Homo sapiens: one gene and its partner. The protein of the gene in region 2 interacts with the protein of the main gene of each other region in a biochemical or structural test. Each region holds a gene or a part of one and is shown on either strand. Other genes may lie near its edges. The genes, in order: ERCC6 and MORC3.

Evidence for each region.
Region 1: the proteins of MORC3 (region 2) and ERCC6 form a complex in vitro, tested with the Homo sapiens proteins (one large-scale study listed by BioGRID).

What each region holds. Positions count from the first base shown.
Region 1 is NC_000010.11:49,532,529-49,536,346, forward strand, and holds part of ERCC6 (DNA excision repair protein ERCC-6), read right to left. Parts: intron 451-3,818; 5' UTR 437-450; coding exon 15-436; intron 1-14. UniProt on the Homo sapiens protein: Involved in repair of DNA damage following UV irradiation, acting either in the absence of ERCC6 or synergistically with ERCC6. Involved in the regulation of gene expression.
Region 2 is NC_000021.9:36,326,449-36,330,266, forward strand, and holds part of MORC3 (MORC family CW-type zinc finger protein 3), read left to right. Parts: intron 1-3,459; exon of another isoform or gene 3,460-3,545; intron 3,546-3,818.

The DNA of each region.
Region 1 (3,818 bases), on a different chromosome or scaffold from region 2:
TGGGCTGCACTCACGTGAGGTCATCCAGGACCGACCGATACTCCTTCTCCACGTCAACGAGCTGGGAGGCACGGCTGGCCTCATGGATGGCATTGTCCACCTGCTGAAGCACTCCCTGTTCCAGCACGTCCTGGTCATAGACGTCCACACCCAAACCCTGCAGCTCAAGGGCCTGGGCGCTAGGCTCTACTGCCTGGATCTGATGTCGGTCGATGTGCAGCAGGGCTGGCCCTCTCCTCGGAGCTGCTGATGCGCACCCCACAGCAGAGGTGGACAGCCCGTCACCCACAGAACGAAAGGAGAGGTACTCCTCCACCTCCCCATCACCACCACTTTCTTGCTTGATTGCCATTTCTTCATTATTACTGACAGGTTGACTCTGTAAACAGTCTTGCTCCTGAGTTTGACTTGAGTGGGGGATTCCCTCATTTGGCATTCTCTACAGACTACCTAAAAGGAAAAAAATTTATAAGCCTTTTCGTTATATAGGATTCATTGTAGTTCTTAAATATTTTATAATTAGAGCAGACTGATTTCTCAAAAGATCAAGTAATAATCTTCCAACTACATAAATTCAAGTTTCCAAGTATTAATTTACTAAAAAGGGACAACGTATCTTCTTGAGTTCTGATAATAAATAAGAAAAATTAACCAGAAAAAGAAATGCAGTATCATCAACAAAGGACATTTAGGCAGCCAGCTAAGAAAGCCAGCCACCAAAATCCTGGGGTGATGGCCATGGAATATTCTTCAAAACAGCTGAAGTCATTTGGCTGCTGTTTTCCAAGTTAGCATCTTCATTTCATTATGACACAAATGATTTATAATATAGTGGCAAGATCAACTGTAATGCATAGGAACAGCGATGTTAGGAAAGAGCTTCTGTGTGAATCTGAGACTAGAAACTCCTAGGCTGAATACCTATCCAGTAAATAGGAGCTTTGAACAAATCAGAAGCTCAGAAGATTAATTAGGCCAGGCACGTGGCTCAGTCCTGTAATCCCAGCACTTTGGGAGGCCAAAGCGGGAGGATAGAGACCAGCCAGGGAAACACAGCGAGCTCAGGACTTCGAGACCAGCCTGGGAAAGATAATGAGACCTTGTCTCTACTAAAAATTTAAAACCTTAGCCAGGCCTGGTGATGTGCACCTATAGTCCCAGTTACTCAAGGGGCTGAGGCAGGAGGATCACTTGAGCCTGGGAGATGGAGGCTGCAGTGAGCCATGATTGCACAACTGCACTCTAGCCTGGGCAAAAGAGCAAGACCTTGTAAAATAAATTTAAAGTTTTTTTAAAAGATTAATTAAAATATTCTCAAAAATAGGCTGGGCACGATGGCTCACATCTGTAATCCCAACACTTTGGGAGGCTGAAGCGGGCAGATTACTTAAGGTCAGGTGTTTGAGACCAGCCTGGCAAACATGGTGAAACCCGATCTCTACTAAAAATACAATAATTGGCTGGGTATGATGGTGAGCACCTGTAATCCCAGCCACTCGGGAGGCTGAAGCAGGAGAATCACTTGAACCCAGGAGGCGGAGGTTGCAGTGAGATGAGATCTCACCACTGCATTCCAGCATAGGCAACAGAGTGAGACTCAATCTCAAAAAAAAAAAAAAAAAAAAACAAAAAAAAAACTCCATTTTAATACACAGTATAATTTCTCACCCATCAGGTTAGCAAGAATTCAAAGCCTGATAGATAAATCCAATACAGACAAGGAGAAGGATCCCCCCTCACATAGTGCTGCTGAGAATATAAATTAGTAAAGCCCCTTGTAGGGACAACTTAGCAATATCTATTAAATTAAAGGCACATGACCTTTGTCAAGCAATTCTAGGTATTTATTCCAGAGAACTAGTCACACACAGGTGCAAGAATGTTTAGTGCAGCACATTTTTAATAGTTTAATGTAACTACTAAGTATATTCTGTATACTGATATAAAAGCCATGTTAAGTGAAAAAATTCATGGTATGAACACACTTATGCTGAAAAAAGTATCTATCCTGCACACAGAATGATCTGGCAGGATACAAACTAAGCCTGCAAATCAGGATGGGGAAGAGAAAGCACAGGGAAAAATAAGGGGGAATGTTCACATTGTACTCCACATACTCAGGACCTGCTGCTTTAAGGAGAATATATTCACTATATTACCTATACAACTATCACATCTAATAAATATATTAAAAAGCAAAACGATAACCAAAAATCAGTCTTGCTTTTTGTTTAACTGTGAATAAGATTTCTTTGAGCACTGTAACTTTTCTGTTAAATGACAAGTTCCCCCAGTGGGCCCCACTCATCCCTTATTAAGTAAAATAAGCCCAGCAATAAAGCACCGGGATACAAAGAATTCAGCATCATCTACACCCGAGTGGCTATCCACTGGAGCAGCAGCATGTCAGTTAACAACAGAGCAGGGCAGGTCAGCTAGCCCGGGACACGGACAAGAGGTCACACGAGCATCGAGCGAACTATATATGGTGTCTGGGGCCCAAGAAATATCACGGAGGAACTGAGATTTGAACACATGGGCCATGCATGGTCTGATATATAGGAGGTGCTCAATATCTGCTGAAAGGAAGTGAGGTTCAGAGCTAAGTCTAAAATAATAAAAAGTTTGGTCTGGACAAATGAGTCACCAGTGAATTCAGTCACAAAAATGAGACTCTCAAAAAGGAAGCAGATAGGAAGCAGGACTGGCAAGCAGCTTACATGTAATCAGTACCATTTGCAGCATGCAGTCAGAAATGCAAATCTGAGCTCAAGGGAAAGTCTGGGTGACATGTGGACACATCAGCAGAGTGAGCAGTTCCAGGGTTCCCAAGGCTCTGACAGGTACCTAAGGTCATTTTGGAGGGTACGAGGAGGCTAACATTGGAAAGGTTAAAAAGTGAACAACACAGTGAGAAAGTTCCTTCTTTTGGGGCCTGCTGATTATTTTCAAGAGGAAGGCTCAGCTCACCTCACTTTCCAACAGAGAGAGCAGGATTCCAGCTCAGAGTGTCTGTACTAGCTGGCAGTTAACAATTCTGTTTTCATTTTTCTTATTTGTACACACATGAGGATTTCTTTTTAAGAAAAAAGGATGCCAATTCAACCAAAAATATTAAGTAACCATTTTTCTATTTCTGTAAAATAATATCAAAAAGCAATAGTATTGTAGTGTAAAGACAAGGTTAAAAATAAAGAAGTTTGGGGAAAACTTCTAATAATAAAAAAGGAGGAAGAGCGTCCAGTGAATGAGAAAAGGCTGAGTGAATTTGGATACCAATGGGTCACCATTTACCTTGGTAAAAGAAGTTTCAGGCCAGGCTTGGTGGCTCACACCTGTAATCCCAGCACTTTGGGAGGCCAAGGCGGGTGGATCACCTGAGTTCGTGACCAGCCTGACCCAACATGGTGAAACCCCATCTCTACTAAAATACAAAAATTAGCCAGGCGTGGTGGTGCATGCCTGTAATCCCAGCTACTCGGGAGGCTGAGGCACGAGAATCGCTTGAACCCAGGAGGCAGAGGTTGCAGTGAGCTGAGATCACACCGCAGAACTCCAGCCTGGGCAACAAGAGTGAAACTCTGTCTCGAAAAAATAAAAAAGTTTCAGTGGAGCGATAGGGCCAAAAACCAGACTGTAGTGGTTGAAATGTAGTTGGTGTGTAAGGAGTGGATGAGGAAATGGAGGCCACAAGAGAGTGGCCTGTCCTTTAAAGAGCTTGCCTCTGGCAGGGAGACAGCTACAGTGATAAAGTAATAATGGATTTGTTGGGGGTAGGGAGAGAACTAGGGCAAGAAAAACTAGAGCACGTAATGGCT
Region 2 (3,818 bases):
CTGAAGGTGAAAGTTGCAGTGAGCCACACCACCGCACTCCAGCCTGGACAACAGAGCAAGACTCCATCTCTATATAAATAAATAATAAAATGTTTATTTCTTACTGTGCCTTATTTATAAGTTGAACTTTATCATACATATGTATACTGCAGTTTTAGGAATCCACTGAGGGTCTTGAGATGCATTCTCTGAGAATAAGGGGAGACTGCTGTACTCCTATCAGTGGAATTATACAATATTTGACTTGTGACTGCCTTATTCATTAATGTCTTCACGGTTCATCCATGTTGTAGTGTGCGTTAGGATTTCCTTGTTTGCTTAAGGTGAATATTTTATTGTATGTCAGAAGACAACATTATAAATTTAAAGATTTTTTTTTTTTTTTGAGACCGAGTCTCGCTCTGTCGCCTAGGCTGGAGTGCATTGGTGCGATCTCGGCTCACTGCAACCTCTGCTTCCCGGGTTTAAGCGATTCTTGTGCCTCAGCCTCCCTAGTAGCTGGGTTTACAGGCACCTGCCACCACGCCCGGCTAATTTTCGTATTTTTAGTAGAGACGGGTTTTGCCATGTTGCCCAGGCTGGTCTTGAACTCTTGACCTCAGGTGATCCGCCCACCTCAGCCTCCCAAAGTGCGGGGGTTACAGCAGGCGTGAGCCAGCGCGCCTGGCCTCAAATTTAAATTTAAAGATATTAATTGGCTTTATTTCTTTTTTTTTTTTTTTTTTTTTTTTTTTGAGACAGACACTCCCAGGCTGGAGTGTAGTGGTGAGATCTCTCAGCTCACTGCAACCTCTTCCTCCCATGTTCAAGCAATTCTCCTGCCACAGCCTCCTGAGTAGCTGGGATTACAGGCGCTCACCACCACACCTGGCTAATTTTTTTGGCTTTTGGTAGAGACGGGGTTTTGCCATGTTGGCCAGGCTCGTCTCCTAACCTCAAGTGTTCTGCCCGCCTCAGCCTCCCAAAGTGCTGGGATTACAGGAGTGAACCACCGTGCTTGGCCTTTATTTCCTATTCTGGAATTGGGCAACACTTCTTCCATAAAATACAGTAAGTGTTCTAGTGAACTGAACAGAGGAGGCTGGCTTTGTAGACAGAAAAAGGCCGAAAGAAAGCAGAAACAAAGAACAAAAAGCAGATACGTCATTTCAAAGTTAAAAACAATAGATAAATAACTGACTGACATTAGGTTACTTTTTGTTGTAAAACAACAAAATGGAGGGAACTTATTATCTGTCATACCAGTTGATGACTGAAACTGACCTGTTCGGTAAATTGGCTGTTATCTCCCTTGATTTCGCTGAAGGTCAGATAACAACTTAGTTTCAGTTTGGTGACTGAAATTTTAGCATGGGTGACTCCATTTTGATTTTTAGTCTGTTTTTGGAGGCCTAGAGCAGGAGCTTAGTCCAAAACAGTGGCCTCCTTTTTTGTTTTTTTTTTTCTGAGACAGAGTCTTGTTCTGTTGCCCAGTCTGGAGTGCAGTGGCATGATCTTGGCTCACTGCAACCTCTGCCTCCTGGGTTCAAGTGATTGCCATGCCTCAGCCACCCAAGTAGCTGGGATTACAGGTGTGTGCCACCAGGTCTAGCTAATTTTTGTATTTTTAGTAGAGACGGGGTTTCACCATGTTGGCCAGGCTGGTCTCAAACACCTGACGTCAAATGATCCACCTGCCGCGGCCTCCCAAAGTCCTGGGATTATAGGTGTGAGCCACCACGCCCAGCTGTCCTATATTTTTTATTTCACATTTACATACATTTGATATGATCAAAAATGTATATTTGTTCTTTGTCCTGGTTCTTGGCACTGGAGTTCCTGAAATCTTTGGTATTTCCTGATAACTATGAGTGGAACATCTTTTGTTATTTATAATAATAAGCCCCCCCCCGCCTTTTTTTTTTTTTTTTTTAACCACACCTTAGTTCATGCTCCCTCTGTCGCCCAGGCTGGAGTGCAGTGGCGCCATCGCAGTCTCCACCTACTGGGTTCAAGTGATTCTCCCGCTTCAGCCTCCCCAGTAGCTGGGACACAGGCGCGCACCACCACGCCTGGATATTTTTTGTATTTTTAGTAGAGACAAGGTTTCGCCATGTTGGCCAGGCTGGTCTTGAACTCCTAACCTCAGTTGACCTACTCACCTCGGCTTCCCAAAGTGGTGGGATTACAGGCATGAGCCACCGCGCCTGGCCAATTTTTTGTATTTTTAATAGAGACAGGGTTTCACCATGTCAACGAGGCTGGTCTTGTACTCCTGACCTCTGGTGATCCACTTGCCTCAGCCTCCCAAAGTGCTGGGATTACAGGTGTGAGCCACTGGGCCCAGTCTGTAATATCCTTTACATTGTATCTTTTAGCTTCCCTGGGCCACATTGGAAGAATTGTCTTGGGCCACATTGGAAGAAGAATTGTCTTGGGCCACACACACATAAAATATACTAACGATAGCTGATGAGGTAAAAAAAAAAAAAAGAAAAAGAAATTGTAACGATAGCTGATGAACTACAACAACAACAAAAAAAATCACGAAAGAAACTTCATAACGTTTTAAGAAAGTTTACAGGCCGGGCAGGGTGGCTCATGCCTGTAATCCCAGCACTTTGGGAGGCCGAGGTGGGCGGATCGCCTGAGGTCGGCAGTTCGAGACCAGCGTGGCCAGCATGGTGAAATCATGTCTCTACCAAAAATACAAAAAAATTAGCTGGGCGTGGTGGCAGTTGCCTGTAATCTCAGCTACTTGGGAAGCTGTGGCAGGAGAATCGCTTGAACCCGGGAGGCAGAGGTTGCAGTGAGCCGAGATTATGTCATTGCACTCCAGCCTGGGCAACAGAGCGAGACTCCATCTCAAAAACAAAAAAAAAAAAAGAAAGTTTACAAATTTGTGTTGGGCTGCATTCAAAGCTGTCCTGGGCCACATGCATCCCATGGGGGCTGAGGGTTGGACAGGCTTGCTTTACAATGAATCAGTGTTTTTTTTGGGTTTTGTGAGCATTATAGCACATTATCAAACATGAGGGGAATCATGTGAATGCCCAATTTATGGTTGGTCTGTCAGAAGTACAGGAGACTAAGGGTTTATAGTAGTTGACTAATTTCTCCTTGTTTGGTAGTATAAACCAAAAATAAAATTCTAAGGCTCTTCCAACCATTTTAATGGACTTCCTTCTCAGCCAGGGCACTCTTAACATTTAATCTGAAAGACTAGTTCAGGCCATGACAGGAAGTTGGGGTCAGACCTGCTTCATTATACTGCTCTGGCGTAACATCACATAACAAGGAAAGAAATAAAAATAATTCTAAATAGATTTCCTTGTCATATCTTGAAATTGCCTTGCAAAGTTTGTCTCTTGTGGAAAAAAATGTACATTGTGTAGAGAATCCTCTTTTCCCTTTTTTCTTTTCTTTTTTTGTTTTTTTTTGTTTTTGTTTTTGAGACGGAGTTTCGCTCTTGTTGCCCAGATTGGAGTGCAATGACCTGATCTCAGCTCACTGTAACCTCCGCCTCCTGAGTTCAAGCAACTCTCCTGCCTCAACCTCCCAAGTAGGTGAGATTACAGGCATGAGCCACCAGGCCCAGCTAATTTTGCATTTTTAGTAAAGATGGGGTTTTATCATGTTGGTCAGGCTGGTCTCAAACTGCTGACCTTGGGTGATCCACCAGCCTTGGCCTCCCAAAGCGCTGGGATTACAGGTGTGAGCCACCAGACCCGTCCTGAGCCACCGCACCTGGCCATTCCCTTTTTTTTTTCTTTCCAGATCCAGGAGATAATCAATTAAGAGTCAGGCACCCTTTTCAGTCTCATAAGAAAACATTTTAC